Regions from separate parts of the Homo sapiens genome. Here region 2 is linked to region 1. The links come from fine-mapping of genetic effects on gene expression. A gene starts in region 1. The other region holds a variant in brackets. All regions are shown on one strand. Distances are from middle to middle. Region 1 holds the start of BCL11A (BCL11 transcription factor A). Region 2 overlaps BCL11A (BCL11 transcription factor A).

Evidence for each region. PIP is the estimated chance that this variant, and not a neighbour inherited with it, causes the effect.
Region 2: its variant is the best candidate, but not a certain one, in a credible set for the expression of BCL11A in monocytes after LPS (Quach 2016, PIP 0.81).

What each region holds. Positions count from the first base shown.
Region 1 is chr2:60,551,035-60,556,402 of GRCh38, forward strand. BCL11A (BCL11 transcription factor A) reads right to left here and starts at 2,620. Exons shown (of 4, transcript NM_022893.4): 1 at 2,182-2,620. The coding sequence starts at 2,236. RefSeq lists enhancers at 1-53, 3,880-3,929, 4,504-5,112 and silencers at 381-690, 751-810, 1,331-1,690, 3,100-3,189, 4,130-4,259.
Region 2 is chr2:60,526,776-60,532,143 of GRCh38, forward strand. The region is part of intron 2 of BCL11A (BCL11 transcription factor A); the gene reads right to left. Among named protein-coding and RNA genes, the nearest start is that of BCL11A, 24 kb to the right of the region's middle. RefSeq lists a silencer at 3,966-4,035 and an enhancer at 5,056-5,368. The variant T/C (reference allele first, on the strand shown) is at 2,570.

The DNA of each region.
Region 1 (5,368 bases):
AGTTCCAGGGCCCAGTGAAAAATTAAATTCCCTGTGCGCACCCCCCACCACCACCCCTTTAAAAAAACACAGAACCAAGTATAGGTGGTCCTTTAAAACTGCATCAAAAATTTAAAGTAAGAATCATAAATTGAGTAGGGGGGGAATGTGGGCCCTCACGCCTTTCTTTCCCTTGCTGCCAAACTTTCCTAAGTGCCCACCGCCCGCCTTTCCAGGCGCAGTCAGCGGGAGACAGCCACCACCACCAGCTCTTATACAGACTCACAAGAACCTCAGACCAAGCCAGGCCTGGGGAAGAGGGCAAGACCCAAAGGGTGAAGTGCTCGGGGTCCCAGGATCCAGCGCCCTTAAAATGCACACTCAAACACACTTCTCCCCTGCCCTTCCCCGGCAACCCCGCCACCTGGCCTAGTCGTGCTCGGGGCGCAGGGGGACTGGTGACCAGACCGGGCGGGGTGGGGGGTGGGCAGGGAAAGCACGTGGTGACCTCCTCGCGGTCCCGAGCTGTGGACAAGAGACGTCTGAGAAAGTACCCAGGGCGGAGGGGAGGGGAGGCGCAGAACGCGCTTTTACAGTTGCCCTGCAAAATAAAAATGCTTTGCAAAGCCGAGTTTCACCCAGCCGATTTCGCAGTCTGGGAGGTCGAGAAGAGGTCTCGGCATTGTGCTGGGGGCGGACCAGGACCACGGGCCAGGCTGGCGCGGAGACACTGCGTGGCCTGCCGCCGTGCCTGGCGGGTGGGCGCCGGGCGCCGGGTGGGCGATCCGGGGCTGGGCTGGGGCGCGGCGAGGTCGGGCAAGGCCCGGGCGAGGCCAGGCCGCCGCCGCCGCCTGCTCCGGGGCTGCCGCGCCGCGCTCGGTCCTCTGTCTGTTTGTTGGCAGGAGGCTCCCGCACACGCGGTGCTTGTAAACATTCAGACACGAGATTTTTCCCAATCAAAATCCACTTCCACTTTTTTTGAAAATCTTCCAAAAAATAGTAAGAGGAGGGAGTTCCTCTCTCCCTCTCCGTGCCGTCGGCGCCCTAAGTTTGCAACTGAAGGGGTTTGGGGGAAGAGGGTGATTGTAAATTTTTTTCTAGATGAGAGATTGTGAGATTTTTGCAGGGGGGCTGGTGGGGGAGTCAAAGAGAAGGCCGTCACAGAAAAGGGTTGGCAGAGCGTTTGGCTTCGGTTTGGGGGCAAGAAATTGTACATTCTCTTGCCTTGTTTTATTTATTTTATTTTTATGTATTTATTTATTTATGTGCCAGTCTTCTCCTTGCTGCCTCTGAGGTTCGGTCGGGAGGGGAGGGCAGCGGCAACCCAGGAGGCAGCAGTCCGGGCTCCCTCCCTCCCTCTCCCGCGTGCCCCCGGCCGCCTCCTCCCCCGGCCCTAGCTCCTGCCCTTCGGCGGCGGCGGCGGCGGCGGCGCGGGAGGGCAAGCGCGAGGAGCCGGCACAAAAGGCAGCGGGACAAACACCCACCTCTGGCCGGAACAAAAGGCGGCAGTGCCGGCCGCGTCTCCCGTCCTTCCCGGTCCCACGGCTCTCCCCGTCGCCGCGGCCCCTCTCCCGACTCCGCGGACTCAGGAGCGCCGGGGGCCCCTTTCCACAGTGCCACTTTCTCACTATTGTGGGGATGACTACTTTCCTCCCGCTGCACACTTGACCGTGAGCGCGCTGGTGTCCAAAAGCCAGTCTCACCTCTTTTCTCCCCGGGAATCGTTTTTTAGACTTGTACTCACTCCCTCCCTACCCCCCCATTTTCTTACGGTGAGTGGGAAGCAACCTCCCTTTCCCCACCAGCTCCCACCCCCAGGTTTGCATGTGAGTTGTTCGCAACCTTAGCATTGTTCATTATTTTGCAAAACTGGCGGGGCGGGGGGGGAGTGGAATCATTGCATTCCTTTTCGAAAAGAGAAATAAAGCGGCGGAAAGGAGGAAAGAGGAGGAGTCAAATTTTTGTAAAATTAAATAAAATTAAAAGGTGCGTGCTGTCTCAAAAGTGCATACACGGCAATGGTTCCAGATGGGATGAGGGTTTTTTCCCCCTTTATCTCTTTTACCTCGACTCTCGGAGGTTTTTCTCGTGAAAAATTTAAAAATGCATGCACACACCCCTCTCTCCCCCTCGCTTTTGCTTCTAGTCCTGCGCGCTCTCGTGATTATTAATAATTATTATTACTATTATTGGGTTACTTACGCGAGAATTCCCGTTTGCTTAAGTGCTGGGGTTTGCCTTGCTTGCGGCGAGACATGGTGGGCTGCGGGGCGGGCGGCGGCGGCGGCGGCGGCGGCGGCGGGCGGACGACGGCTCGGTTCACATCGGGAGAGCCGGGTTAGAAAGAAGGAGACTCCAGAGAAAATATCTTCATCAGTGCCTTTTGACATCCAAAATAAATTAGAAATAATACAAAGATGGCGCAGGGAAGATGAATTGTGGGAGAGCCGTCATGGCTTTTTTTTAAGCAAAAAAAAAAAAAAAAAAAAAAAAAAAAAGAGGGAGAGAGAGAGAAGAGAGATAGAGGGAGAGAGAGAGAGAGAGATGAAAAAAATGGCAAAAGCCCCCCTGAGCTGCAAGTTCAAGTGCGGACGTGACGTCCCTGCGAACTTGAACGTCAGGAGTCTGGATGGACAGAGACACACAAAACATGGGCAGGGCGAGCAGGAGAGAAGGGGAGGAGGGAAGGGGAAGCTCACACCAATGGACACACATCAGGGGCTGGACATGAAAAAGAGACCAGGACAAGCCAATGGCCAGTGCGGGGAGGGGGAGGTGCGGGGCGGGGGGCTCCGCGGACGCCAGACGCGGCCCCCGGGGGAGGGGCGGGCCGAGGGGAGGGGGCGCTGGGGCCGCGGGCTCACCAGTGGCCGCAGCGAGCGCCGCGGCGGTGGCGTGGCCGGGAGAGAAGAAAGGGGTGGCAGGGGTGGGAGGAAAGGGTGGGGGGGAGCAAGACGTGCGCCCTGCTCCCCCCCACACACGCGGACTCTAAAATGAAAGATTATTCAAAAAAGAAAAAAATAGAGCGAGAGTGCACCGGGAGGCTGCAGCCCCGGGCTGGGGAAGCGCGGGCGGAGGGAAGCCAGGTAGAGTTGCTCCCGGACACCCTCCTCCGTACGCACACCCACTTCCCCTCCCCGCCGCCGCCGCGCTCGCTCCCCGCGTGTGGACGCCAGGGGCCGAAGTAAAAGCCCCGAGCCCGCGGCTGCGCTCGGGAAACTTTGCCCGAGGAGAGGACAGCAAAGAAAAATCACCCGAAGTTGAGAGCTGAGCCTCCAAGTTACAGCTCCGCAGCGGGCGAGGGGAGGTGGGAGGGAGCGCACGGCAACGCGGAATCCAGCCTAAGTTTGGAGGGCTGCGGGTCCGGAAGGGCAGCGCCCAAGTCTCCAGGAGCCCGCGCGGCCTGGAAAGAGGGGACCGGGGAGAGGCAGGCGGCGCAGGCCGGGGCCCGAGGGCGCCCCCAAGGCCGAGCCAGGGACCGGGAATCTGAGCGCCCCGCCAAGCGACTGGGTCTGAATGCAACTGAAAGCGCCGAGTCCCCGGCTCCTAAGGGTCGCAGAAAGAGAGCCCGAGGAATAAAGAACGAGGAGCCAGAGTCTGGCCCCCGGAGGGGAGCGCCGGGGGCCTGGGCAAGAGAGGCACCGAGGCGTCCACCTCTCTGAGAGGCCGAGGACAAAGCGCGGGCAGTCCCGGGAGTCCCAGTCCCTGGGAATGTGCTCACGGCGCCGCGGGAGGTCCCCGAGCCGGGTCCCTGGGAGGGACACACCCCCTCCCACTCCAGAGCAACTGCAAAAGCACAGAGGGATGGGAAGAAAATGTTTCTTACGGGCAGAGCACAACTGTTCCTGTGCTGTTACCCAGGGAAAGAGAAAATGGGAATGGAGAGAGAGCGACAGGCTCGCAGGAGCAGCGGGGAGACCACGGTGGTGAGATGACCGCCTCGGGTCACCGCCGCGCTCCCCAGGCGCCGCCGGCCAAGGCGCACACCCAGGAGCCAGCAGCCCCCTCTCGCCTTTCTGCAGACGTTCCCTGGAAATTAGGGAAGACCTGTTGGAAATAAAACCCTGTCTCTTTAATGCACACACGCACACACACGCGCGTGCTGCCGCTGTCAAAAAGCGGGCTTCACTCTGGCGTGGGATACTTTCAGTTTTACGTAAAATGTACAGCAACAGCACCCCCTGCGATTGGAAAGTTTATTCAGAAACGTGCCTGTAAAGTCCCCTGGCGCCTCCCGCCTCCCAGCCTCCCTGCCTGCCAGCACCACTCTGCAGCCGCCGCCGCCGCCGCCGGGGAGATCGCAGTCCGATTCCAAATCTGGAAGGAGTTGGGGGGAGAGGAGAATGGACTCAGGTCCAAGGGAGGTGCGGAGGGTGCAGGGTGGAGACGGGTCGCCATGGCCCGCGAGACCCTGAGCTGCAGGTGGATATGTGTGAGTGTGTCTGCAGAGCGAGGAGCCCTCCTTCCCTCTCCTCGGAGCGGTTCCACAACCCCCGTCTTCTCATCCCCCTCTTCAGTCTAAAGGGTGTCGCTTCCGTAAACTCACCCACCCGGTGGGGGGGCTTTATTGTTTTAAGCGAGGGCCCCGGGCTTGCACGCGCTCACCCATCCCGCAGCCCTGCCGGCAAGCGGCTGTTTATTCCTGTTTCGTCTTAGTAAAGTTTCAAGTCTACTGTGTTAGAAAATGACTGGCTTGCCTAGCTCGGCGGAGCTTCGGACCCCTCTAAGGAAGAAAAGGAGGTTTTGATGCTCAACATTGAGAGAGATGTGGGCTGTACTGGGATTGTGTCAATGTGGTTTGTTGTTTGTTGTTGTTTCCCTCCAGTTTGTGGGAGGGAGACCTCAAATTCTGTTTAAGAAGCGGGAGGATTCACTAGAAGTTAAGCTCTGTAGCTTGTGTGTGACACCATTTCCCCTTTTCACTGAGTTCTTCAGAGCAGGTCAGCATCTCTATTCCACCACAGTCTGCTTTTTGTCTTGTTAAACCAGCCTTGGAGTCACCAAAAGAATGTCTTCTTGGGGGGTGGCGGGGGAGGACGACGTGGGGGACGGTTGGAGGGAAGGTGAAGAGAGGGAAGAAGAAAGTGCAACTGGGAGGCCTTTGAAAAATAAATAAATAAAAGAAAAGCCCCTTCAGGTAACAATAGTGAGCCAGATTCTTTCAGAACCAAGCTTTTCAGATTTGAATATTGTTCCCACCCGTCCATAAAAGTCCATCTATAGAGAAGATATATAAATGAGCGAGTGAGTGTTGTGGAAATATATATATATGTATGATTTATATATAATGGTGTGTATAAAGCTTTTCGGGGTTGGCTGTAGTGTAAAAAGTAATGACTTTATTACCTCTGAAAGGTTCTGTGGTTCACATTTAACAGTCTTCTGAATT
Region 2 (5,368 bases), 24 kb before region 1:
ATGATGAAACAAATAAAGGGCTGACCTATAATGCGTCTGATTCATTGTGACACACACAACTCCCTGCGCTAATCTCTGCCCAGCCAACGCATTCTTAAGCGGGGAACTACTTAGCACCAGGAACGTTGTAAATTATCACTAGTCAACAGCATTGATTTTTAGTCGACATTTCAATCAGGTTGAAGTAGAAATACTACCCGGCTCATCCAACAGCCTCTTAACCAGTCCACTGCCCCTCTGAGGTCTCCCCGGTTATGGCTTTGCTAAATTTCCATTGCTCTCACCATTCGATATTTATTGTAGCTTTGCCACATCCAGGCACTTGGCCTGAAGGGTCACCGGCCTGCCTCTTGGGACATCAAATTTGTGCTTACCTAACGAAGGCAGAAACAGAAAAAGAAAAAGAAACAAAAGGCCATCATCAGAGATGTGGCCTGATTTTCACTGATTTTCAAGGGAAGAGAAGGAAAACTAGGGGGTGCGAGCGAGGGAAATAAGAAGGGTTCTAAAGCCATGATACGCCTTTTATCATTTCAGCTTTATCATTTCAGTCTAGGAGACCCAGCAAATAAAACTAAGAGCTTCTCTTCCAGGGTGACAAGGGAGAACCACTACACTCTTGACCCAAGGGTATGTAGAGACAATGAAGAGGGCCAAGAGAAGGGGTGAGGGGGAAGGGCTTGCATGACCTCCATTGAGGACGTCCATGCCCCGGGACAGAGTGCGAAGTAAAAGTGAAGCTTTGGAGCTCTTGACCCACATGGATTCTCAGCAGCCACCTCCATCCCACCTCAAACTCAGAAGACAACCTGGATGTGACCGACAACTTCTTTGTGATGGATCTGAACAGCCTCCCTTGGTTCTAGCAGAAGGACTTACCAAGTGAGCAGAGCTCCCATCCGATACTCGCCAGTGCTGAGGCCAACTCTTCCACTCCTCCCACGGGGCCTCCGCATGAAGTAGGCGCTTCTCAACTACCAAATGATTCTGAAATTCTCTCAGTGGAGGTCTATGTTAGCCTGGCCAATTTGAAAGGATGGAGAATACAGGAAAACAGTAACATTTGGTTTTGGAATACATTGTGTAATCCATCTGCAACGAACCTCAGGTCTTGCTTCAGCAAATATTAATAGCGTCAGGGCAGCCTGTGGAGTGACTGGGAGAGGCCACCACGCAGCTGAAAACTTGCCTCTGGGGAAGCCACATGCGGATCATATGGAGCTGTTGACTGCAGTTTCCATTCAAAACTTCCCTCAAGTTTCCAGCATGCCTTCCGGACTTGCCTTACCACAGCCTTGTTCAGCCAGAAATGAAAACCTCCTCGAAGCAGATTATGACCCCCCAGAACCCATCGTCCTAAGAAACACCACTGCCACGCACACTCACTCACACTCAGTCTCTCCCTCCCTGTATAATTCTGATTCTCCCCAGCCTTTGAAGGTACGATCCGAGAAGTAAATGCCACAGAGACAACACACAGAACTGCTGCAGGCCAAGCCTCACCACTTCTTAAAAGTCCGAGCTTAGTTTCTCATTCAGCCCACTGCAGTCTCCTGACCAAGCCACACACAAACAGTAAAACCTCCTCCCTCTGTTTCTCAGGACCCTCACTTGATTTCAGGCTCATTCTGGACAGATGGGGAAATGACTACTTGCAAAGCAGGATTCCTTACATTGCAACTTTTCCCAACAGCTCCGTGCTCCTTCAATATGCCCAGAACTGGAGGGGAACATTCTTCTCTTTCCCAGAAGATTGAAAAACTTGACCACAGAACCCATGGGAGGGACAACTGTCCAGCACCAGAGCTTCCTGCCCAGTTGTTGCCTGGCACCGCTGAAGAAAGCTGCAAACGTACTGAAGAGGTAGCAGAGGGTGGCGGCCGCAGGCCAAAGGATTGAACAACTGTGGACCCTCAGGGAAGTCATTTAACCCTTGATGAACCCCAATTTCCTCCTCTACCAAATGAGGCTAATGGGAGTGTTTCCTTTCCGAGGTTGTTGTGGGATGGAATATCAATGTGTCAGACACATGGTAATAATGACAACAGCAATTCTGGAGGTGCAGCCCCCGGAGCGAGTAATGTCTGTGCTTTCCCTCATTTACTTCTCACATGGACTCTATGAGGTAAGGGACCTTGAGTTATCTCCATTTCACAGAGAGGTGAAATGATTCCCTCAGACTCTCCCAACCAGCTAGCAGTAACATAGAAATCTGAACCCAGAGTAACTGTGTCACACACCCAGGCAGGCACAAGCCTCTCGTAAGGCAACACACGTCTATGGGGAGAGGGGACTCCCACCCACGAGGGAGCTGCCACCAGAAACATAATGAGACCCTGAGCTCTTTAGACCCCCACCTGCCCTGCTCTTCTCTCATCCCAACCTGCTCACCCCATAATGGGGGAACTACTTTGAGACCCCAGGAGCACACAGTTCCAAGCCATGAGTCATAACCGTAATAGTAATGAGCTTTTGTGACATGTTTTACCATGTGCCCAGCACTGAGCCCAGCGCCCCCACATGCTCTCATAGGATGCTCAAAGGCCCTATGAGGCAAGCCCCGTGATTC[T/C]CCCCACTTTACAGATTGAGGAAGCGGAGGCTTAGGGAATGAAATCTGCCCAAGGTTGCACAACTAGAAATGGTATTACTTCTTTACCCTCAGCCTAAACCATTTTATTTCGTGTAATCAAAGAGAAGAAGAAAAGAAAGAAGATACATCATATGTCAAGGGCATATTTCCCCTCTTTCTGTCCCTCCTCCCTTTCTTACCAGCTCAGGTTACAAAGACATCTAGGTGGGAGAGAAGACTGCCTCTAAGGGCTTGGCTGAGTTGGCGGGCGGGAGCGGGGGCAGGTATCCATGGGATAAACCCAGAGGCCCCCAAATTTTCCCAGTTTTTATTTGCTACTAGAAAAGGAGAAGGAAATCCTGCCTCCCTTATGAGGCCTAGCCAGGGGAAGTAAATGTGATTTTATCACATTTTATATAGATGTGCACAATGGTGCCTTTTCAAGTCTATGATGGGAAAAATATTTTTTATTGTGTGAATATCATTTCAGACAGGTCCCCAAACCACTTGAAAGCCCTGGTGTCCCCTAGGTGGGATTCTATGAACCCAGCTTTAGCCCCAGCAGCTCCTCTGGTGGGAACTAGAACATGCCTCCTGCCAGTTAGTAACAGGGAAATTCAATTACTTCGCCACTTGTGGCAGGAGGGCAAAGACTGCACATTAAAAGAGCTAAAAATGTCAGGAAGTTATTGGGATGATGACTCCTGCTTGCCAACATTCATATATGAATGCATAATGTCACAATAAACTAAAAAACACAGGAAGAGGCCAAGAAGATAAGAAAATCGAGAACAAAACAAGCCCAAACACATGGGTTTGCCATCGGTCCTGGGTCCTGCCCAGGAAAGGCTGCGCCTCTAACAAGAGCACCTTTTCCCCACCCCTGGCCTTTCTTGAGCCTTCCTTGAGCCTTCCTTGCATATTATCGTTCTCAGCCACCGACAGCTTAATTCACAGGCCCTTCCAACAAGTTAAACTTCAGCCATTTAAAAAAAAAAAAAAAAAAGAGTTTCCACTGATTTCTTACCTGCACACGCAGGCACGCCGGCCACGCCCCACCCCACTGCACCACGAGCTCTCACACCTGGTCGCCTGAACACAACCAAACCCTTCCCATCTGGCCCTCGGGTTACTGGCGTTATCACAACTTTTTTTCCCAACGGCAAGCCAGGAAAGATGATAGAACCCGCATATGTAGCCAAAAGACTGGCCTCAACTGGTTCAGAGGAGGGAAAAAATTGAGCTGTGCGTCTCTTTTTTTTTTTATTTTTTATTTTTTTGCCTTTAGCCAAAAGACCAGGGAGCATTTGATGTACAGTCAGCAGGTATTTAAAAAAGAAAGAAAGAAAAAGGAAAAAAAAAACACTGAAAAGGCTTGGCTGCACTGGGGCCCTGACACGCTCTCATCTAAAGCCTGGCCCTCGGCCAAGTTCATCTGTTAATGGACAACCACAACCAGGGCCTGCACCTCCCCCACCTCCCACTACCCCTCCTGAGTCTTCTCTGTTCTCCTACCTCTTTCGAGCTCCTAAAAACTAGACATCGATTATGTCTGCGCTTTTCCCTTTCTATTCAAGATAAACAAAGTGCTTCAAGTTCAGGGCGCACCCTGGGACCCCTGACAAAACAATCTATCATTCTGTCTGCTAAACCAGTCTGGCTACACCATGGCCAGGGAGAGTAACGCTCCCAATGTACAATTTTCCCTTTGTGCTCCTTCCCTCTTGCCACTAACCTCTTTTCTTTACCACCTTCTCCGGAGCAGATGGACTTGACCACTTTGCTTAAGCCCCTCCTGGCAACCTCAGAAATTAGAGAAAAAAAAAAAAAGAGCTCCTGGCTACCCTACTCCGGTCCAGGTTTTTCTCCTCCCTCTGTGTTGCCCGACGGTCCTGCACACACAGACACAAATCCCGTTGGACCCACAGAATCTTTTCGACCCTCTCACACTAACACTAAACCAGAAAATAAATTAAATACTGGGACTGCCCCCTCCTTTGCGTTCTGCAAGAATATTTTAAGTGAGTTTTGTTTTAAATCATATCCATTAATTTACCCTGACTTGCAATTAAATGCAAGCACACTTTTTACAACCAGTACGGAATGCATTAATTATAACTACAAATGGTCAAATGAGAGCAAGGTCCCTCCAAAAAATATTAATAAAATACATAATAAATAATATTAATGAAACAAAAATAGATTCATAAGCCTTGGCCAGGGCTTTTATTATTTCATGCAAGGGGAAAGTCCAGCCAATGAAACTTGCTCCATACACTTTGGCAGGACTCAGACCAACCACTACCATTAAACTCAAGAGCGTGTTTTGGCAGTGCCCTGGCATTGGGGGGCCCTGTGCAGACACCACCAGGAGACGCTGACCCCAGTACCCAAGGCAGGGTCCATAACGTCTTATTCAGCCTTTCCATGTGGTCGGGAAGTTACCCACAGGCTGCTTCCCTCTTCCTAACCACCCTCTCTGCCGGCCGCAGCTGTTCTGTCAGTGTCCACCCTGCCCCTCAAAGGACAAATGAAATCCCCCAGACCCAGTGGGAAATAAGCCCACCTAAATGAAGAACTCAAGACTAGGGCACCATGAGCATCTGGGTTAAGGCTCGGAATCCTGCACCAGCGTTGGAAGCTGCCTTTGTTCCTGCCACACCGCCGGGCCCCTGCTAACCTGTCTCCACAACACTCAGCCTCACGCCTCACCCCAGCACTCCCTGCCTCTGCCCCTCCCCCCAAATCCAACACACCCACCGCACAATCGAATCTAATTAAGATCAGGAAGAAATTTGC